Linked DNA regions of Homo sapiens: region 1 is linked to region 2. Evidence: fine-mapped QTL for protein levels in blood plasma. A gene starts in region 2. The other region holds a variant in brackets. All regions are shown on one strand. Distances are from middle to middle.

Region 1 (12,050 bases), 550 kb after region 2:
ACAGACCACAGGACAATAAAAATAAAAATGAATCTTAAGGAAATTGACAGGTGAGAGCGTGCTGGCAGTCCTCACAGCCCTGGCTTGCTCTCGGCACCTCCTCTGCCTGGGCTCCCACTTTGGCGGCACTTGAGGAGCCCCTCAGCCCACCCCTGCACTGTGGGAGCCCCTTTCTGGGCTGGCCAAGGCTGGAGCCGGCTCCCTCAGCTTGCGAGGAGGTGTGGAGGGAGAGGCGCAGGCTTCCCCTGTGGTGCTTGTGGGCCAGCGTGAGTTTCGGGTGGGCGTGGGCTCCGCAGACGCTGCACTTGGAGCAGCCGGCCGGCCCCACCGGTACTGGGCAGTGAGGGGCTTAGCACCTGGGCCAGCAGCTGCTGTGCTTGATTTTTCGCCTGGTCTTAGCTGCCTCCCCACAGGGCAGGGCTCGGGACCTGCAGCCCGCCATACCTGAGCCTCCCCCACTCCGTGGGCTCCTGTGCTGCCCAAGCCTCCCCAATGAGAGCCGCCCCCTGCTCCACAGCGCTCAGTCCCATGGACCACCCAAGGGCTGAGGAGTGCGGGCGCACAGCGCGGGACTGGCAGGCAGCTCCACCTGCAGCCCCAGTGTGGGATCCACTGGGTTAGTGAAGCCAGCTGGGCTCCTGAGTCTGGTGGGGACGTGGAGAATCTTTATGTCTAGCTCAGGGATTGTAAATACACCAATCAGCACTCTGTATCTAGCTCAAGGTTTGTAAACACACCAATCAGCACCCTGTGTCTAGCTCAGGGTTTGTGAATGCACCAATCCACACTCTGTATCTAGCTACTCTGGTGGGGCCTTGGAGAACCTTTGTGTGGACACTCTGTATCTAGCTAATCTGGTGGGGACATGGAGAACCTTTGTGTCTAGCTCAGGGACTGTAAACGCACCAATCAGCACCCTGTCAAAACAGACCACTCAGCTCTACCAATCAGCAGGATGTGGGTGGGGCCAGATAAGAGAATAAAAGCAGGCTGTGGGAGCCAGCATTGGCAACCCACTCGGGTCCCCTTCCACACTGTGGAAGCTTTGTTCTTTTGCTCTTTGCAATAAATCTTGCTACTGCTTACTTTTTGGATCCACGCTGCCTTTATGAGCTGTAACACTCACCGTGAAGGTCTGCAGCTTCATTCCTGAAGCCAGCGAGACCACGAACCAACCAGCAGGAATGAACAACTCCAGACGCGCCGCCTTAAGAGCTGTTAACACTCACCGCGAAGGTCTGCAGCTTCACTCCTGAGCCAGCAAGACCACGAACCCACCAGAAGGAAGAAACTCCGAACACATGTGAACATCAGAAGGAACAAACTCCTGACACACCGCCTTTAAGAACTGTAACACTCACCGCGAGGGTTCACAGCTTCATTCTTGAAGTCAGTGAGACCAAGAGCCCACCAATTCTGGACACAAAACCACTCATAACCATATAATTACATGGAAATTAAACAACCAGCTTCTAAATGACCTTTAGGTAAATAGTAAAATTAAGACAGAAATCAAGACTTCATTTGAAATTTATGAGAACAAAGATATAACATACCAGAATCTCTGGGACACAGCTAAAGCATTGTTAACTGGGAGGGTTATAGCATTAAATGTCCATATCAAAAAGTTAGATCTTAAATTAATAATCTAACATTACAACTAGAGGAATTATAGAAACAAGAGCAAACCAAAGCTAGCAGAAGACAAGAAATAGTCAAAATCAGATCTGAACTGAAGGAAATTGAGGTGAGGAAAACCATACAAAAGATCAACAAATCCAGGAGTTGTTTTTTTTTTTTTGAAAAAAAGTTTAAATAGACAGACCAATACTAGACTAATATAGAAAAAAGCAGAGAGGATTCAAATAAACACAATTAGAAAAGACAAAGGGGACATTTCCACTGACCCCAGATAAATACAAAAAAAAAAATTCAGAGACTATTATGAACAACCATATGCACACAAACTAGAAAATCTAGAAGAAATGTATACATTTCTGAACACATGCAAGTTCCCAAAACTGAATCAAGAAGAAATTGAATCCCTGAACAGGCCAGTAACAAGTTCCAAAATCACATCAGTTAAGAAGCCTGCCAACCAAGATAGCCCAGGACCAGGTGAATTCACTGCCGAATTCTACCAGATGTGTAAAGGAGTGTCGGTACCACTCCTAATAAATCTATTTTTAAAAATTGAGAGGAGGAACTCTTTTCTAACTTTTTCTATGAGGCCAGCATCACCTTGATACCTAAACCTAGCAGAGAGACAACAACAACAATGTACTTCATTCCAATATTCTTGATGAACACAGATGCAAACTTCCTCAACAAAACAGTAGGAAACCGAGTCCAGAAGCACCTTAAGAAGCAAATTCACCACAATCAAATTGGCTTTATCTCTGGGATGCAAGGTTGGTTCAACATATGCAAATTGATAAATATGATTCATCACATAAACAGAACTAAAAACAAAAAGCGCATAATCATCTTGGATATTGAAAGCAGAAAAGGCTTTCAATAAAATTCAACATATCTTTATGTTAAAAGCCCTCAACAAACTAGACACTGCAAGAAGATATGTCAAAATAATAACTGTCTGTGACAAACCCGCAGCCAACATCATACTGAATGAGCAAAACCAGAAAATATTCCCTTTGTAAATTGGAACAAGGCAAGGATGAGCTATCTCAACACTCCTATTCAACTAGTACTGCAAGTCCTGGACAGAGTAATCAGGCAAAAGACACAAGTAAAAGACATCTAAATAGGGCGAGAGGGAGTCAAACTATCCCTGTTTGCTGATGATATGATTGTATACCTAGAAAGCCCTATAGTCTCTGCCCCAAAGGTCCTAGATGTGAAAAAAAAAGAAAAAAACTTCCGCAAAGGTTCAGGATACAAAATCAATGTACAAAAATTAATATCAATGTAAATATATAAAATATATAATTTAAATATAAATATATAAAACATATAAAATTTCTATACACCAAAATCATACAAGCTGAGAGCCAATCAAGAATCCAATTCCATTCATAAGTCACAAAAAGAATAAAATACCTAGGAATACAGCTAACCAATGAGGTGAAAAATCTCTACAATGAGAATTACAAAATGCTACTCAAAGCAATTAGAGGTGACACAAATAAATGGAAAAACATTCCATGCTCATGGACAGGAAGAATCAATATTGTGAAAATGTTATTATTTCCCAAAGCAATTTATAGATTCAGTGCTATTCCTATCAACCTACTAATGACATTCTTCACAGAACTAGAAAAAAACTATTTTGAAATTTATATGGAGCTAAAAACGAGCCCAAAGAGCCAAGGCAATTTTAAGTTAAAAGAACAAAGCTGGAGGCATCACATTACCTGACTTCAAACTATACTAAAAGCTTACAGTAATCAAAACAGCATGGTACTGGTACAGAACAGACACATTGAACAATGGAGCAGAATAGAAAACCCAGAAAATAAGACCACACGCCTACAACCATCTGATCTTTGACAAAGTCGACAAAAACAAGCAATGGTGATGGACTTCCTATTCAATGAAAGGTGATGAGATAACTGGCTAGCTGTATGCAGAAGATTGAAACTGGGCCTCTTTCTTACACCATATACAAAAAGCAACTCAAGGTGAATTAAAGACTTAAATGTAAAACCTAAAACTATAAAAACCCTGGAACATAACCTAGGAAATAACATTCTGAACACAGAACTGGGCAATTATATCATGACGAAGATGCTGAGAGCAATTGCATCAGGAACAAATAATTGACAAATGGAACCTAATTAAACTAAAAAGCTTTTCACAGCAAAAGAAACTATCAAAAGAATAAACAGACAACCTACAGTATAGGAGAAAATATTTGCAAACTGTACATCTAACAAAAGTGCAATATGTAGCATCTATAAGTAACTTAAATTTACAAGCCAAAAACAATCCCATTGAAAAGTGGACAAAGGACATGAACAGGCATATTCAAAATAAGATACACATGCAGTCAACAAGCAGATGAGAAAATACTCAGTATCACTAATTATTTGAGAAGGGCAACTCAAAACCACAATGAGATACCATATTACACTACTCAGAATGGTTATTACTAAAAAGTCAAAAAAATAACAGATGCTGGTGAGGTTGTGGAGAAAAGGGAATGCTTATACACTACTGGTAGGAATGTAAATTAGTTTAAATCATTATTCTGGAAAGTAGTTTGGCAATTTCTGAAAGAACATAAAACAGAGTTGCTATTCAACCTCTTGTTAGCAATCTCACTATTGGGTAGTCTGGATAAAGAAAATGTGTTACATCTATACCATAGAATATTACATAGCCATAAAAATGTACCAGATCATGTACTTTGCATGAACATGAATGGAGCTAGAGTCCCTTATCCTAAGTAAACTAACACAGGAACAGAAAAACAATTACCACATATTTTCACTTATAATTGGAATCTAAACACTGAGTACCTATGGATACGAAGAACGGAAAAACAGACACCGGACCTACTTGAGGGTGGAGGTTGGGAGGAGAGTGAGGATCAAAGAACTACCTATTAAATACTATGCTCATTACCTGGGTAATGAAATAATCTGTACACCAAACCCCCAGGGAAACCATAACCTAGGGAAAGTAAACCCTACAAACTAGGAAATACCTGGGAGTTTGGTATACACATTATTTCATCACCCAGAAATAACAAACCTGCATGTGTACCTGTGAACCTAAAATAAAAGTTTTAAAAAAAGAAAAG[C/T]ATGAATCATTCGAAAGCTTTAATAATTTAAGAAGTGTACACACACACTTTTTAAAGCAGATAGTTTAACTTGGGCAAATTCCTGGTGATGCTGCCAAGTGTTGTGAGGTTCTGGCTACAGCCCTCAGACAAAGCAATTTTCTTATGTGGCTTTTTTTTGTGGTATTTATAAAACAAAGTGAACTTGTAACTGTGTGCCTGCATGGTGAGACACTAGAGGGAAAGAGAGGAAACACTTGGAACCCAACCCATTAAAACTAACTAAAGAGCTTTTCGTTTCAAAATATCTGCTCAAGGGAAAACTATAGTCTCTGACAGTTCAAAGTAAAATCCTACATCTCTCCATCCCCAACTCACAAAATATTATTACTGAATAAGAATGCCACAATGTGATCTGGCGTGTGTGTGTGTGTGTGTGTGCATGTGTGTGTGTGTGTCAGACAGAGTGTGTTATAGAAAATAATTATTTATTAAAATTTTATATTGACTTATAGCCTGTAGATACTGAGTGGGTTTCTATAGAGATCCACAAATTAGACATTTTCTCTTGTTGTAGATCGAACGCTCTATTTTTTATGTTAGAATTGGAAAACTTAGAAAATAAAAATAATTTGATAATATTCAGCCATTTCCATTTCTTCTGTTTTCAACGTAGACAAATGGGTGCTTACCCATATAATTTTATTTTTCCTATTTTTCTGAAGTCTTAGAAATTTGAAGATTTAAAAAATCCTCAAAAGTAAAATTTCCCAATTGATTTTTCTGACTTTAATTCAAACTAGAAAAAAATATGATGTCCCCAAATTAATAATTATTATAAGCTTTGAGACTCATTCAATTGGGGTTTAACTGAAAGATAAATATTATTGGAAAGATTTGGCAAAACTGAATTTGACTTAGATATTGTCTAAAGAGTTTTGTTTTTGGAAAGATTTCGTGAAACTGAATTTGACTTGGATATTGTCTAAAGAGTTTTGTTTCTGAAAATACAATGATTGCTTGATAGAATGGTTGCTTGAAAGTCTCTATTTGAACCTTTTATTAGCCATGTGATTCTATGTGTTAATTTCATTTATTATGGGAGCAATTGGCTGATTATAACCATCAACAGATGCATAGATAAAGAAAATGTGGTATATATACACAATGGAATACTATTTAGCCATACGAAGAATAAAATATGGTCATTTGAGGCAACATAGATAAGCCTGGAAGGCATTATGTTATGAGAAATAATTTAGGCACAGAAGGAGAAATATGAAAGGTGGATTAGATAGATCTGTTCATCTGAAAATATTATTCAACATAAGGTTGGCATGTGTCAGATGGCAACAATAGTCAAAATATTTTCTTTTTAAAAAATAGGTTCTAAATAATCCTCTAAATTTGTATGACTTTAATGGAACGTTTTTGTGCAGTATTGGCTTTTTATGAGCATCTGAATTTAACGCGGGAAAATTTTACATTGTTGTATAAGACATGCTTATAAATTCACATGAAAACTTAATACTACAACTTAATAAGTGGTGGGTTTTTATATACCCAATTGAGGAAATGCAGTGTATTGTAACCTATACAGCCCTATCACAATAAAATTGGGAGCCAAATGGCCTTTGTTACAATGTTGATTGCCTGAATTTATTTCTGAGATAAAATAGTTTCCATTTGACTTGATTTGTGAAAAGATGTATTTCTAAATTTGTAAAATCTTAATCACAGTGGATAATTTCTTTTTTTTTTTTTTTTTTTTTTTTTTTGAGACGGAGTCTCGCTCTGTCGCCCAGGCCGGACTGCGGACTGCAGTGGCGCAATCTCGGCTCACTGCAAGCTCCGCTTCCCGGGTTCACGCCATTCTCCTGCCTCAGCCTCCCCAGTAGCTGGGACTACAGGCGCCCGCCACTGCGCCCGGCTAATTTTTTGTATTTTTAGTAGAGACGGGGTTTCACCTTGTTAGCCAGGATGGTCTCGATCTCCTGACCTCATGATCCACCCGCCTCGGCCTCCCAAAGTGCTGGGATTACAGGCGTCGAGCCGCGCCCGGCCTGGATAATTTCTTAAGCAGTCTCTTTGACTTAGGAGCAACTCTAATGAATATGAAGGCTGTCAAATAATTTATTTAATAAGTGCTAAAATGGGCCGGGCACAGTGGCTCACAACTGTAATCCCAGCACTTTGGGAGGCTGAGGCAGGCAGATCACCTGAGGCCAGGAGTTTGAGACAAGCCTGACCAACATGGAGAAACCCCGTCTCTACTGAAAATACAAAAATTAGCCAGGCGTGGTGGTGGGCGCCTGTACTCCCAGATACTCGGGAGAGAGACAGGTCAATCACTCTGTCTCAAAAAAAAAGTGCAAAATGATTTGATACCTAAATTATTGTTAAAAGGCAGAAGGTGAGGGCAAAAAGAATGTCTCCCTTAAAAGAAAGGCTAATATTAATCTCAAGAATTATTTTGTTTTTAAAGTACATAGATATAAATTTGGACTTCTAGAGACATGAAAGTTTTTGATATTGTGGTTTTGCAGATAAAATATATTCTTAAAGTCAAAATAGAATCAATTTAATGAATGAGAGAAGAAAAAAGTATTCTGAAATAAAGAATATGTATGATTGCATTATTTATCAGGAATTGTATTCTAAAAGATATATATTTTCTCTGACCATTTTATGTTATGCCATTTTAAATTACATTTAAGATTGTGCTAATGTAAAACATAGACATGAGAAATAGAAATAAAAAGAAAATAAAGTATTACAGAGATGTGGTTTTTCACTTTAAAAAATAGCACAATTGCTTTTACTTTTGGAATACATTTCTAAAGGAATCATAAGCTTTGCACACAAATCATTTAAACCAAACACTAAAGATTTACTTTATGAAACAATACACACTAATTTGCAATGAATAGAAAATAAAATAACTGGAATTTTCTTCCACATGCATTTTTATTTTAATAGCAACAGATAGAAATATATACATATATTTCTATAATGTTCTGGAAATGTATATTAGATCACACTTTGAAACATATTTTGTTTGTGGGTTAAACTATCGGCCAATTAACTCATGTAGCATAGTATAAGAATTGAGTATAGATACCCAAAATTTAGGTGTGAGTTTGTCAAATAATAGAAATGAAATAAAAATACAACAAAGTAGCCAATAATACATAGTATATCCACATATATAGGTATATATGCTTGTGTGTGTATTCTGGCACTACAAATAGATAAATACAAAGAAAGAAGTAAATAAAGTCTTATGATTGAATGATAATGATTTTAATCAAATAAACTAAGCTTTCTGGATCAAACTTATGTAACATTTTTTTTCTAATGATCTGATGTATAATTCTTTTAATCATGAGATGTGTTCTTTGTGCCTCAATTATTTGACATTCTTATGAAGTTGACAATATTAGTGATAATTTTATTCTTAATATTTCATATATCCATCTATACACACACGTATATGGGTATGTGTGTGTAGTCTATTTATAAATTTAAGAATTTTGAGAAAACACTAGAAATGTCATAGCAAGTATTATTCTTGAAATAGAAATTAATTAAAATAGTTCTCTTAGCAAACTGTGAGTTTAAATAATGTCTAAACATAAAAACAATTACTTATTCACAAGCATGTGGAATTTTGTTTTAGATAAATAACATAATGGTTTATAAACACATTCACAAATAATCTCTTTCTTTAAAAAGGGCAACAGAGGGTAGGTAGAGATTGTTAAATATGCAGTTTTTTGACGCAAAATTTTCTACTAAAGTGTTGGAAAGCATATATTGGTTTTTAACTCAATAGTTTCAATTTGAGAATAAAGCTTTGATTATTTATCTTTTTTTTTAGTGTAATTAGAACAAAATTACATTGCATTTTCATTGAATTGCCTAATATCTCCTAAAGTAATATCATGCCGATGTATGCTATAATAAGTGAATAATATAAATTGTAATAAACTTACAAAAACCACTAATCTTCTAATCGTGTACAAAGCATACAATTTTCAAAGATATGTTGCATCAGCTGTAAATATAATGGTCAATGAACTCAAAGGTGTATACTCAGAAGTACTGTATTAAAACTGTTCTTACATAATGATATTTAAGTATTAATGATATGGCTTATATAATCCATTAAAAATTCTCTTACAAATATATTATGGCAGAGTGAGTTATCTGTATTATATAAGCATTGTTATGGGAAAAATTAAAAATACTCTATTTATCCTGGTAGTATTTTTAAAACAAAAGGTATTAGTGGTGTGACATGTGATGAACAATTTAATCTTCAATAATTTTTAAGCTTTAAATCCTAGAAAATATGATGTGCCTACAGCTGTTCTTTGAAAATAAACATTATTTTAAAGGTTTAAAACAGAAATACCTGGACTGTTGTATGTATTAGCTTTGAAGAAAGGCAATGGAAAATAAGAAAAGGAGAAAGAAACAAAACAGGGCAAAGGGAAAAGACAGATTAAAGCAATAATTATATAGACTTTGCTTGAATGTACAATTAATAAGTCAAAATTCTTATATCAATGTGTTAAATTATGTATGGATTTTATGCTATTTAAAGAAAATCAGTATCTTTGAAAAACGTAAACATGATGTTCTGAGCTCTCAGAATAAAATAGCAGCACTAAAAATATTAGATGTAAGATTTTAAAATTAAATATAGAGATCATCTTAAATTGACATTTGACTTATTTATTTAAAAAATTATAAATGTATGGTTTTGTTTCTTAAATAATATATTCATAGTGTTAATTCACCCAGAAAACAATATCAAATCTATAAATTGTTTCTAGTTAATTCAGTAATTTTTTGGTCAGAAATTTTCATGTATTCGTTATCAAATATCAAATATGTAAATTATATTATAGCTGTGCATTTTACCATGTAAAAGTCTAAGTGTGACCTAAAAGGATATGTAAAATTAAGTGTGACATATAGATTGCATTTAAAGGGGGGATGAGAATGTAATGCAGTAGATGTTTCATTAAGGAGAAAAAATAAAAGAATTCTTTTGAAGACTTTTGTGGCTCCAAGAAGCCAAATAAATCACCATTGTATCTTTACAGAACTGAATTATTTCCATATCATAGAATAAATCTAAAATGGTGGCTATAGTAATGAGTATACCCAAACAACATTAATACTTCAATTACTAATAGTAGTGTATACTGCAAACATGTCCTAATGTGTTTTCAGAAGCATTGGGGAAAGGAAATTAGACATGTAGGCTCACACAGAGCAGGATATATAAATTACTCAGAGATTGTGTTTCACCTCTGTTTGAGTCTATAAATCTATATGAAAAATTTGAAGACTGGATTTTGATATGGCATTATTGGAATTAATAACACTGAAAAATGTATAGCATACATGCACTCCTTGGCAAAAACAAAAGAAAAAAAAAAGATTTTCTCTATCCAAAAGGATGTGATATTTCTTTTCTATTTCTCTTCGTATGTTGGAGTTCTTATTTTATTAATACCATTTTAAATAATATAAAATGAGTTTGTTAATATCAAAATGCCTTTAGAAAATTTAAGTAAAACTATATTTTAAAAAGACCTATTAATTTAGATATCATACTACATAATAATTGTATTTTTTAAACTTGTGGTAGATATTATTTCCCATGATTTATAAATTAGAGCTTTAAAAAGTGACATCTTATTCATTATTGAATACATCCTGAGGCTCTCACCAGAAGCAGATGCCAGCACTATTTACTTAATTTGTGTACAGCCTGCAGAACTGTGAGCCCAATAAACCTCATTTCTGTATAAATTACCCAGCCTTGGGTATTCCTTTTTAGCAATGCAAATAGGCTAACACAGAAAACTGGTACTGAGGAGAGGGACATTGCTGTAAAGATAACTGAAAATGTAAAAGTGGCTTTGGAACTGGGTAAGAGGTTGAGATTGGAAGAGTCTGGAGGACTCAGAAGAAGACATGAACATAAGGGAAACTTGGTGACTTCTTAGAAACTTGTTAAGTCGTTTTGACCAAAATACCTATAGAAATATGGACAGCAAACTCCAAGCTGAAGAGTTCTCAAATGGAAATGAGAAAGTTGTTGAGAAATTGGAGTAAGGGTCATCCATGTTATGGCCTAGCCAAGAATGTGGCTGTCATATTGTGTCTATGCCCCGGGAATCTGTGGAAGTTTGAACTTCAGAGTAGTGATGACTTAAGGTATCTGGCAAAAGGAATTTCTAAGCCACAGTGTTCAAACGTTGGTATGAGTGCTTCTAACAAACTGTGATCAGATACAGGAGCAAATGAATGACTTAAAGTTAAACTCATATTTAAAAGGAAAGCAGAGCATAAAAGTTTAGACAGTTTGCAGCATGACTATGTGGTGAAGAAGGAAAAAACATTTACAGCGGAAGAATACAGGTGGTCTGTGAGCAACCACTTGCTAGGGAGATTTGCCTGACTAAAATGGAGCCAGGTGCTAATAGACAAGGCAACGGCAAAAAGGCCTTGTAGGCATTTCAGGGATCTTTGAGGCTGGCCTTCCCATCAGGGGCCTAGGAGGCCAAGGAGAAAATAATGGTTTCAGGGAATAGGCCTGAGGCCCCACTTTTTTATGCAGCCTTGGGACTCACCTTGTTCCAGCAGCTCCAGTTCCAGCCACAGCTCAAAAGGTCCAAGTACAGCTCCAGTTGCCACTTTGGAGAACACAATCTCCCATATGCCCTGGCAGCTTTGACATGGTGTTAAGTCTGCAGATGCATTGAATGCAAGAGTGAAGGAGGCTTGACAACATCTGCCTAGATTTTAGAAGACGTATGGAAAGGCCTGGGTGCCCAGGACCAAGTTTGCTGCTGGGGCAGAGTCCTCATTTGAAGTCCCTACCAGGGCACTGCCTAGTGGAGCTGTGGGAAGGAGGCCACTGCCTTCCAGACTGGAGAATAGTAGACCCACCGGCAGTGTACACCTTAAGCCTGGAAAAGCTGCCAGCACTCAGCTTCAGACCCTGTGAGAGCAACCACAGGGCTGCAACCTGCAGAGCTACAGGGGTAGAGCTGCCCAAGCCCTTGGGAGCTGCCCATTTACATCAGTGTGCCCCTGGATGTGAGGCACGGAATCAAGGATTATTTTGGAGCTTTAAGATTTAATGTCTGCCCTATGGGGTTTTAGACTTGCATGGGGCCTGCTGTGCCTTTCGCTTGGCTGATTTCCCTGTTTTGGAATGGAAATACTTAACCAGTTCCTATACTACCACTGTATCTTCAAAGTAAACACTTTATTTTACTGG
Region 2 (12,050 bases):
CCATATATTCTATTGTAGTAATTCTGATGGGGGATCCTGGGACTGGTGTTTTAAGGGCTACTTTTTTCACTTTTAAGATTTATTTGGTTCAATGGACAAAGTTTGAGACATACTGCTTCACAGAATTTAGAGTCTGTCTTAGTATCTTTAGGGTGCTACAACAAAGTGCTATGGAATAGGTGCCTTGTAAACAATAGAAATGCTTTTCTCATAGTTTTAGAGGCTGGAAAGTCCAATATCAAGGCGCTGGAAGATTTGGTGTCTGGGGAGGACCCACTTTCTGCTTCATAGACAGCCATCTTCTTATGTTTAGTCGGGGGGGAAGGGGCAAGAGAGCTTACTCAGACCTCTTTTATAAGGGCACTAATTCCATTCCTGAGGGCTCTGCTTTCATGGTCTAGTCATCTCCCAAAGGCCCCACTTCCTAATTTTAATTTCAGCATATGAATTTGGAGAAGACACAGCATTCAGAACATAGCGCAGTCTCATAGTAGAAACGAATAAATGATTACAATGGAATTTCAGAGGCATTATTAAATGATCAGAAAGGGAGGAATACTTAAACCTATTTTCTTAACATGAAGGTCTTCACAGAAGAAGTGACACTTGTTTTGTGTTTTCAAACATCGCTAAAAAAATAAGAAAGTGAGAACCATTTGGGGCAGAATTCTGGACAAACACACACACACACACACACACAAAAGCCGAGAGGAATGAAACATCCTGAGTGTTTAAGAAAATGCAAGTAAATTTTCATAGTAATTGATAATTCTGAAGACTGAAAAGAAGAATTCATGCTTCATATCACAGAGTACCTTCAATGACTAAGGAGTTTAGAAATTGTCATTTTTGCCCTGACAGATAGCTCGCCAAACTTGTTGCACATGACTTCAAATGGCTGATCCCAGGAAGTGGAAGTAAGAATTGGAGGGCAGGCCCATGAGGAGAAGAGGTGAAGTTCAAGAGAAAAATCATAATTTTTTTTTTCTTTTCACTACATGATCATAGGGAATGAGGCAGAGGGACATAGCAAAGAGGAATGTGTCTTGATGCATGATGTGCTATTTACCACTTGGAAATCTAAAGAGATAAGCAAGTGTGGCAGGGAGGATGATACCTGTGGCTTTGAATGCTTTCCTTTAGGACAGTTTCCTTTAAAATGCTTGTGATGCATTTCTAGGTGGAGATGAAATTAGATCTTTGGAAATATAGGTATGACAATCAGGAGCAATGCATGGACAAGAAATATAAAATTTGAATGTCATTACTGAAACTCCGGAAATGTATCACAACATCTGGGTGACTATCGAGTGCGAAAAAATAATAAGGGCAAAATGCAGAAATATAATGAAGAAATAGAAATTTATAGTTGATGGATAATGTATGTAAAAGTATATAAGGTAAAGGCTCAAAAAATGTTAGCTTACTCCTCTTAATCCCTGAATAAAGACCAAATTAGACAGCAGATGTTATTGGAAATTACTTGGAATTTCAGAGGTAAGGAACAGCAATAGGGTTGGAATAATAAGAAAAATTTTATGGTGGAGAAGGAACATGAACCACCCTAGACAAATGGATAGGGTTTGGCCAAATGAAGAAGATAATTTTGCAGATTAGAGAAGACACGTGTGCAGAAATGGAAAGGCAGAAAAGAACAACTGGCTGAAACTGACGTACTGGATCCTTAGCAGGCATCCTGGCTACATATGCACAAATTTCAAAGAAAATGGAAAGCCCCTCAGTTTTCCCCAAGTGCTCTGACCCCCAGAGATGATACAGGCAGGGTGGCAGATAGGGGTGGGGTATATTTTCTGAAAAAGTTATTTACTGTTTATGAGATCCTTGGAAAGTAACTGTAAAAGTTTGCTCTTGGAGAAATGCAGATAATGCTTTGGACATGAAAAAGATATCAAGGAGATTAAAAAATTATGAGTACTAAAATAAAATTCAAGGAATAATCAAACTCCTTGTTTAAATATGGGGGAAAATAGGTAGGTCCAGTTAACTGAAGAGAATGGCTCCCTTAAAAGCAGCAGTATGACATACTAGAAAAGCATGTACTCTGTCATGAGAAAGAACTTGTTTTTAATCCTGGCTCTGCCCCTTTTTGGCTGAATAGTCATGTCTATTTTCCTTAAACTCTCTGAGCTTCATTCTCTTCATGTGTTGTAGACATCTAATAAAGCCTACTTTGAAAGGGTTATGTGGGGATTAAGTGAAATATCTATTGCAGGTACGGTGACTAACACTGTTTCTACAGTTTTATCCTATGTAGTTTTGAATTAGTCAGTTAGCCTTCTAGGACCTCAATTTCCTATAGAATTAGGAGAATTGGCACTAATATATTTTAGGTACAAATATGAATACATTAACAGTAACATTGCTCACTTCAACAGCAAGTTTAGAGAGATAAATGATTATGTGACCAGGTCATAATCTAGCCTATTGTATGCTATCATGTTTTTGTCTGTGGTCTCAGAAAGAGGAAAATCAGTTGAGTTTAGGTGGCAAGAAGGAGCTCATTCTCCAGCAGATTGGTGGAAGCTCACCTCAAGATACATTTCAAATGGTGCATTGCACCTGCTCATTCATCAAGCTGCCAGGGGCTTACTTTACTGCCTTGCTTTTTTTCATTTAAAATTCACATCTTTGTGGTGTCTAGAGTTTCTCAGCTTTGTAATGAAAGTAATACATTAAATCTTGCTTAAATAAAAGTAGTTCCTAATGTATTAAGTATAGATGAAGGCCAAAAAGTGAGATTTTATAGCTAAGCACAACACTACTTTCCAAATAGTGCACACAAGTGTATAGCTTCCTTTTCATCTCTGGTCAATGTTATTTTGTATTTGAATTGATTCTACTATGTTATAAGATAAAAGAAAATTATACAGAACAATGCAGTTCTCTTTGGGGAGATATTAGGGTATTTGTTCTTTATTTTGTGCAGTATAGGGTAAGAGAAAGTTGGCATTAAACCTTTGGGACTCCCTAGGCAGCTGTTGAGTCTCTCCCCTCCTCCCATGCTCAGCTCAGTGCTATATCACTGGAAATCACTAACCTTCATAGAGTAGAGCCCAGAAGATGGTAACACTGGTTCAAGGACAGGCTAAGGGAAGCGAAGGGAAGTAAAAGGAAGTAAATAGGAAAATACAACAAACATGTGATTAACAGCTGTTTTCTGAAGCAAGGCTCCACCAGGGATCTGCAGCTGTGTCATTGTGCTTCAATTCTGCAGCTCCTACAGGGCTAAATTGGAAGAGGCATGGAGCAGGAAGATATGTGCGAAAAGGCTAAAGGAAGTCCAAAAACCGTGGCAACAATATAAGGTGAATGCCCCCACTCCTTAGATATCCTAATTTTTATCCCTCATGGGAGAGGTATAGGTCCATAAGAAACAAAGTCATCTTACCAACTGGATATCTGCTCCGAGCTGCTGCTGCTTCCTCTTCCTTTTTTTGGGGGGTGGGGGCCGATTTTGGAAGGGCAAATATTGATGGAACATCTACCAACACTGCCTCTTCCCTTTAACAAAATCAACATGATGCATGCTTACAGATTGCCTTTGAAAGTTACCAGTGCCTCCTCAAGATATAGTAGAGAAGCAGGTTTTAAGGTGTCAGACTGAGGCTTTCAAAATAATAGCTGCTAGGAGAATACAAGTTTGGGCCTGAAAACCCAGTTATGAGGCTTCCAAATAAATCAGTGGATTTTCAACTTTTTTTTGTAATTATTATATCCTAGTTCCCAAACAACCACAGTAAAGGAGGCACATGGAAAGCGAGGAAAAAATGAAATGGCATTGTCTTCCCCCAGGTGCTCAATCAGTATATTTCCTTTGATGTGTAGCCTTCAAGTAACTGACAACCCCAAGTGGCCCATTCTATAGGGTCCTGCATCTACGCTCCTTCCTCTGTGCGCTCAGCCCGGGTTGACAAGCAACCTCCAAATTAAACAACCTCCCACCACTACTTGGAAACAGACAACCATCTCTTAACAGGCCTCTGTAACACACAGCTTGATGAAAATCACTTACACAGGGCAGATGACACAGAGGAGTTTACAAGGTCGGGGCACTCCTTGGCGGGGCGTGAAAGGGTGGGAGGTGCTGAGGTCAGGGTTAAACTACCCTGTGAAATGAGCCTCCTGCCCTGCCCTTTCCTCCCTTCATCTATAGAAGGAGCCTCCAGTGAGTTCCTGCGTCTGGAAATCTGCCCCCTTTAGTGCCGCAGACAGGCCAGGGACAGCATTTCAAAGCTCCTCTAAATCAATCCACTTAAAAGAGCCCAGAAAAGCCTGACCATTGACCATAATTGCCCTAAATTGCTTGTTTTCCTTCCCCTCTTGCAGCCTCATCAACATTTCCCTTCTTTCCCCCTTCGTGTCCTTTTTTCTTGGGGGCGCAGGTCCTCTAGATGCTTGGGGTGCACACTAAGGATATTTGAGTAGTGGGAGCTCCGACTCGAGGCAGGAGTGGGATGTCTTAGCATTCCGTCTCCCCCACCCCACCCATCTGCGTGGGACACAGTGACTCCTAGAAGGGTATCCCAGGATTTTAGCGGCCAGGTGTGAGCGCCCTCCACGCGGTCCTCCGAGACCTCAGGGCGCGTGGCAACTGGGCAGAAGCCGTCTCTGCAGCGCCGCTGCCCCGGGTGGAGCGGCAGCCCAGGCTGCAGCAGTGGGGTTGCCACGCCGAGTTTTCCGCATCGGCCGCCCGCAGGGCTCGCCTGCTTCTCCCCATTGTGTTCTCAGAGCTGTGGGACCCAGCCGCGCGCGCAGCCGCACCCGCGCCAACGCTGGAACCGAAGGCTCATGGAAGCGGGGCTGGCAAGATGGGGCAGGGAGAAGGAGCAAGAAGGGGCCCCAGAAGGGCACGGCGTTTCATCAATAATGCAGAGGCTCCTGGACCTCCCTGCAATACGTTTTCCAGCTAAACGCCACCAACTGGAGCGCTTCCTGGTTCGTCCCACTCGTGTGGTTTTTGTGTGTGAAAGATGGGACGCACCTTTTTCATTCATCTGTCTTCTCTCATTCTTCCTCCTTCCCTCCCTCATTTCCTCCCTCAAAGTCCCCGCTGGCTTAGCTTTAAGCTCTCGTCTTCACATCAGCACCATGTTTTCAAGCAAAATCCTGCAGGTTGGAAATGCAAGTGTCAAAAGTCCCCACTGCCTACATACCGCCAAGAGTTTACCAAAATCCACCTAGTAACGCTTATTTTCAAAGCCCCCACGCGCATCCATTCCTGGAGAATGCTTTCAAAGTTTGGAAGCTCCCTGCAGCCTGCCCGTGTCTATGCCTCAGTCAGCTCACATCACGAACAACGGTGCGGTCAGCGGCACTGAGATTAGGCTGCAAAGTTGCCCGGCCCCAGCCCACTACACCGCTGATGCTCGCCGCATCCCTAGAGCAAATTCCGCTGTGTGCCCCCAAGAAGCCAAAAGCGGCACGAAACCTACTCCAACAAGGGTTAGCCCAGCCACACACACAACAAACAAATTCCAAAACTTCTTTGTTAAGCAGCCGCAGCCTACCTGGAACGGACACTCTGCACAACTGGCAAGGAAGAAACAAACATCGCATCCCTGCAGGAAAACTTGTTGAATCCCTCCCGATCGCAAGGCTGCAATTTCCGATTTAGCCTGAAGGTTTTTGATTCTACCCCAAAACACCCTGGCGCATCAGCCACAATTTCTGGATAAACTGCAGAGTCCTCTCGGCAACCATTCTGCACTCCAACAACCACTAGTGTAAAACCCAGCGTGTCCCCTTTTACAAATCAAAAGCCAGCTGTCACTTCCCTTGCAACCATTTCCGAGACTTACCCTTCCATAAGACTGTTTTCAGCAATCTAGAGGCTCCGTAGTGCAGACGCAGCCCTGCAACTTTGCTGTGCACTGAGACCTTTCCGAGTTTAAACCAAGCGAAAGGTGACAGACTTTTAAACCTAAGAGTGGGGAAATAGGGAGAGAGTGAAGTCGGGTTTCTTCTCTGTATCAGCACCCTGGAAAAATTCAATCCTTCTTCAGTAGAGAATTCTTTCAAACCCGTTATCTGTATTACTATTAATGCGCAGAGCAGAAGGCATTGCATACAAATAGGTCCAAGTGTGCGCTTCTATTGGTGGCTGCGGAGGCCCCTGGGTCCTACTGCTCCGGTCTAAACTACACAGCAACACTAGGCACGCAGCTTTGGAGACGCCGAGGGGAAAATGGATTTAATTGATTCGTTACCTCTGGTATTGTAATGCCTGCTGCGATGTTTAACCGAGGGGGGAGGAAAAAAAAAAAAAAAAACCCTTACATTTAACTCCTGTCATGTGATCTATCATTCCATAGCTGCTTTTAATTGTCTGTGTGGAGTGGCTTTGATCATACAAAGGATTTTAAAAGAACATTTTCGAAGGAAAATTCACACAGACACTTTTGGCAGGAAAACCCTCTTTTGCTCTCTATTATGCATTATTCTCATATAAATCCAGGAAATTTTATATAATCAAATACTTCTGCACTTCACGTAGGTACACACAACACCCAATTGTATTTACAATTCATAGCTACTACAAATAAAATACCTTACATGGGTAGTAGATAGTAGAAGCTAAAATATGAGTCTACCAATTATAAAACACGGGTTATATTAGTCAAATGCTACAGAAAAAATTCCATCAATGACAATGGCGTCAGCATCATTTTTACTTCGCAAAATTAGAAATTCAAAAATATTTTCCTTGTAAATATTGACATAAAGATATAAATCAACATAAAGGTATTATAATGTCACAGTATGTCAAGCATTTACTATTAATTGCTACATTATCTTTTTACAGTTTCTCTCTTAGCAAGTTCATTAGTAATGCAAATTGGCATAACAAGGAGATTTAAAGTGAGGCCGACCTGTGGTGACTAGCAATTTGAAATATTGTAATAGTGTGCAAAATCACTTTAGTTCATCATCGGTAAAGCCAGTTATTTTAAGAATTAGAATATTAAATGCTGAATCTTAATATATATTAATTTGAAGTCTTAAACATGCTGTTTTCTTTGACCTTTAATTTTGTGGAGGAAAAGAGAAATCCTTATTTAAACTAAAATGACATAGACTTTCCACAAAATCCTAGATACGATATTTACTGATATTATAATTTAGGAAGTAACATAATTTTATTGTCTTTGATGTAAATAATTGTGATAAATTCCAATTTAATTACAAAATTATTACATATATGTAATGTACAACTGAATGAACATTGTTGGAAAGGGCCACTCTGGATAAGGTTAACATCAACCAACCTATAAATTCACTACCTATGTGTAAACTAAATAAATGAAAACACAATGCAAAAATACAACAGACTCGAGATCTTATTCCAAATACATGTAAAGCATTTGAATTTATGTAGTGTGTGCTACAATCCCTCTTCATTTCCGTAACTCTTTCCCTTTACAGCCCCTTCCCTTCCCCCAATCAGTAACCCTTGACAACAGAAGTGTTAACTTCAAGTCCAGGTTGCCTTTGCTGCCTTCCAGACCTAACTTACAGATTGCATCCTTGTAGGAAACAGAGTTAACTCTTACACGACTGAGAGGTGAAAGAAGAGAGTTTCTTTCAGGGATTAGAAAATCCAGTATTTTTATGTGTATTTGCAAAGTTTGCACCAAACACATATTTTTAAAAATATCCATGATCACTAATTCAGAGTGAAAAGATGTGATCATTGGCATTGTATCAGAGTCAATTTGCTGTATATATCCATTGCTATTGTGTCACTGAAATAGCTTTTGAATAACTTTTATTCAGGGTTACTTCAATCACTTTACTTCAGGTTAATAATTTCTCCATTTACAATAGAGTTAAAATGAAAATACCAAAGTGTTGCAATATTCAGTATAAGGGTATAAAGGACTTTTTTTTAATCTGTAAAAGAAAAGAAAAGCTATTATTTCATATAGTAAGAAAAGCATAATGACCATGCAAAGTTGAATAAAGATGACTGACATTCATCTTATTTCTAAAACAAGTAAATTATTGGTGTTTCAACTTCTTTCTACAAGGGGATCTGAAAAAAATCATTTGCAACCCAACTACAAGTTGAAAGTTCTGCATTTAATGTGTATCATTTTAGAACTGAGAAAAGATGTGTTTTACACAAGCTGACAGATTTTATACAAAATCAATGCAGCTTATCTATGACCATAATTAAATGGGGAAGTTTGATAGTGGACACATATAATAGTGAACAGAAGAAAATAAATAAACCAAAACTGACCTAATAACAAATTTATTATATAATCTCTTGATAAGTTTTTACTTTCTATATAAAAGACTGATGTAAAAATATAGCAAGCTAAACAGAAACTTAAGTTTAACTTACTATTTTTTTAAAAAAGTTTTCTACATCTCTTCAATAAATTACTTGTTTATCCAAATTATTACCATATGAGATGTATATATATATATATATATATATATATATATATATATATATAAAATAAATATATAGTTGTAAATGTTGCAAATATATTTTCCTTACTTCTTGGATACTAAGGCAAAACATATTTTAAAGAAGGATATTAGAACCACAATAGTTTTCATATATCCTAGATCTGTAGGAATATCCTTGATCTATTCTTTATTATTTGAAGTATTGTTGGACCCCTCATTTTGTCAGTGCAATTTTCAAGGACAATATATGCTATGTCAGAAACTGATATCCATTATGTCCTTGGATCATGATGACAATGCCTTATTGTGGTTACTGTGAACATCTATAAAAGTTGGAAAGCAAAACATACATGGCATATCCCTGTCTGTCATTACTACAATCAGCTTCCTTTCTAAATTTAGGTGGGTAAACACGCAATAGCATGCCACTTGATAAAACTTAATGAAATATAATGACATTCAGCTACTATCCAAGCTATTTAAAAAATTCTGCCTTGAGTAATTTTGAAATATGTATAGTTTAAAAAATTTCAAAGCCACAGGCATTGATCTATGTGTCTCTTTAAATAGAATATTTATCCATGCTTGATTTTGACAGATGAAAAGGAAAACTACCAGACATATAAATTATATTCTGAAAGCAGAAATATAAAGAATGTTAACAGCTAAACAGGCATCTTTAAAAGTGTAAATCAGTACTAAACAGCAATATATATATACACACATATATATGTATATATACACATATATACACACATATATGTATATATACACACATATATACACATATATGTACACACACATATACACATATATGTACACACACATATACACATATATGTACATACACACATATACACATATATGTACATACACATATATACACATATGTGTACATACACACATATACACATATGTACATACACACATATACACACATATGTACATACACACATATATACGCATATATGTACATACACACATATATACGCATATATGTATATACACACATATACGCATATATGTATATACACACTTATATACACACATATACACATATATACACATATACACATATATACACACATATACACATGTATACACATATACGCATATATACACACGCATACACATATACTCATATATACACATGCATACACATATACGCATATATACACATATATACACATATACGTATATAGTCACATGTATACACATACGTATATATACACATGTATACACATATACGTAAATATACATATATATATACACATATACATATGTACACATATGTATACATGCACATATACACACATATGTATACATGCACATATACACACGTATACATGCAACATATACACACATGTATACATGCACATATACACACATGTATACATGCACATATATACACATCTGTATATATGCACATATGCACATATATACACATCTGTATATATACGCATGTATACACATCTGTACATATACACATATATATGCACATATGTGTATATATATGTTGCAAGACACCACATCTAAATACATGGCTCAAAACTAATCTGTATGAATTGCTAAAGTAGGTGAAGAAAGTACAGCTCAAGTGTTAAAAATATCTATATAAGATGATACGTTTGAGAAGAAAGATAGAACTTCAAAAAGGTCAATTAAACTTGACATTAAGTGGAAGGGATGAGAACTTCATGGCACAGTGATTTGGTTAAGATGATCACCATAAATGGAATGCTCATATTAAAATTCCAATAAAAATTTGCAAAGAAAGAGGCTAGAAGAGGATATTTTCTACTATTAACAAGATTATAAAGCAAACAAGATTATAAAGCAAACAAGATAAAAGTTGACAATAAAAGTGTGGAAGTAAAATACTTTGGCAAAACAACACAAACACGAAATAGGGTTGGCATCTACTATAGACTTTCCAGATTAGAGAAAATGTTAATAGATAATTTTAAATTTGAACAGGAAGTTCTTAAGATTTCTACCTATTGTCCTAAGAAATCTGGGAATAAAAGCTCCACATACTTTTGTGAAAACAGACAAAAAATTTAAACCTATGTAAAATGTCAGATAAATTTTGAATTAGAGCAAATAAATGAATATAAATATACATATATACAATATTATGCCACCATTACTCCACTAATTAAGAGCTGAACAACAATTTTCTGTATGTTATATGAAAGTTAATGGTCAGATTTCATGGTTTGCCCTTCAAAAGACACAACTGTTTACACTATTTAGAAGGAAATCTAACCAAACTTTAATGTATTTAAAGGCTATTCATTTGATCTCTTTTAAAGACTCCCAAAGACTTGCTTATAAAGCATAATAAGACAGAAATAATTTTAAACTATATTTTTATTCGTATACCATAATTCTTAGGTAGCTAAATTTAATCATATTCCGTTATTTGCTTTTGTCCTGGACCAACTTCAAAAGCTAACATTAAAGTTATGAATCACTTACTCATTCAGTTAAGGGAGGAGACCACCCCTCATATTGTCTTATGCCCAATGTCTGCCTCCAAAGAAAGAAGAAGTAAAAACTACAAAGGCAGAAATGAAATTCACAGGCAGACAGCCCAGCACTGAGCCCTGGGCCTGGTAGTTAAAAATCAACCCCTGACCTAACTGCTTGTGTTATCTATAGATTTCAGACATCGTATGGAAAAGCATCATTAAAATCCCTGTCCTGTTCTGTTCCATTCTGATTACTGGTGCATGCAGCCCACAGTCACGTACCCCCTGCTTGCTCAATGGATCACGACCCTCTCACGTGGAACCCCTTAGAATTGTAAGCCCTTAAAAGGGACAGGAATTGCTCACTGGGGGAGCTAAGTTTTAGGAGACGTGAGCCTGCCGATGCTCCCAGCTGAATAAAGCCCTTTCCTTCTATAACTCAGTGTCTGAAGTGTTCTTGTCTGCGGCTTGTCCTGCTACATTTCTTGGTTCCCTGACCTGTCTTGGTTCCCTGACCTGGAAGCGAGGTGATTAGCCGAAGGTTGAGGCAGCCCCTTAGGCAGCTTAGGCCTGCCCTGTGGAGCATCCCTGCAGGGGACTCCAGCCAGCTAGAGTGATGTGGATCCTGAGAGCGCTCCCTGGTAGGCAGTTGCCCCAGTGGAATGCCTCACCAGAACAGCTTGTGGCAGGCCCCCATGGAAGATCAATGCAGTGGCTGAACACCGGGAAGGAAGTGACACTTGGAGTCCAGACATCTGAAATTTGGTAAGACTGGTCTTTAGAACTAGCCCACTCCCCCTGAGTGGAAGCATGGCCTGATCACCCATGATGTGCCTGTACAGGCAGTTTGGATTTTGTTTTTGACTTGACTTGGATTGCTTGATACTTTGGTTTTGGTTTTGACCTGGCTTGGATTTCTTGATACTCTGATTTGGGTTTTGATTCTGGTTTGATGTAAACTGTAAAAGTGTGTGTGTGCCCTTTTTACCCATTCTTTGTTTTGTGTTGTGTGTGTGGTGTAAGCGTGGCGTTTGTCTCGAGGAACCACGGGTCAGGCACAAAGTAAACCCACCTCATTAGGAACTATGTTGAAAAAATTCAAAAAGGGATTTAAGGGAGACTATGGAGTTACTATGA

Direction of the effects. Positions count from the first base shown, and alleles are read on the strand shown. Strength reflects both the effect of a copy and how common the allele is.
For the plasma level of the protein whose gene starts at base 6,066 in region 2, C is the low allele of the variant in region 1 and T is the other (weak association).

What was found. PIP is the chance, under the fine-mapping model, that this variant and not a neighbour inherited with it causes the effect. Protein levels are from antibody-based Olink assays in UK Biobank. Linkage for the fine-mapping came from a reference panel and not from the study's own genotypes, which makes the PIPs less certain.
Region 1: its variant is fine-mapped to the plasma level of the ROBO1 protein (UK Biobank, PIP 0.96).

Annotation. Positions count from the first base shown.
Region 1 is chr3:80,314,277-80,326,326 of GRCh38, forward strand. No RefSeq gene overlaps it. Among named protein-coding and RNA genes, the nearest start is that of LINC02050, 440 kb to the right of the region's middle. RefSeq lists an enhancer at 229-728. The variant C/T (reference allele first, on the strand shown) is at 4,766.
Region 2 is chr3:79,761,933-79,773,982 of GRCh38, forward strand. It overlaps ROBO1 (roundabout guidance receptor 1), which reads right to left and starts at 6,066. Exons shown (of 31, transcript NM_002941.4): 1 at 5,820-6,066.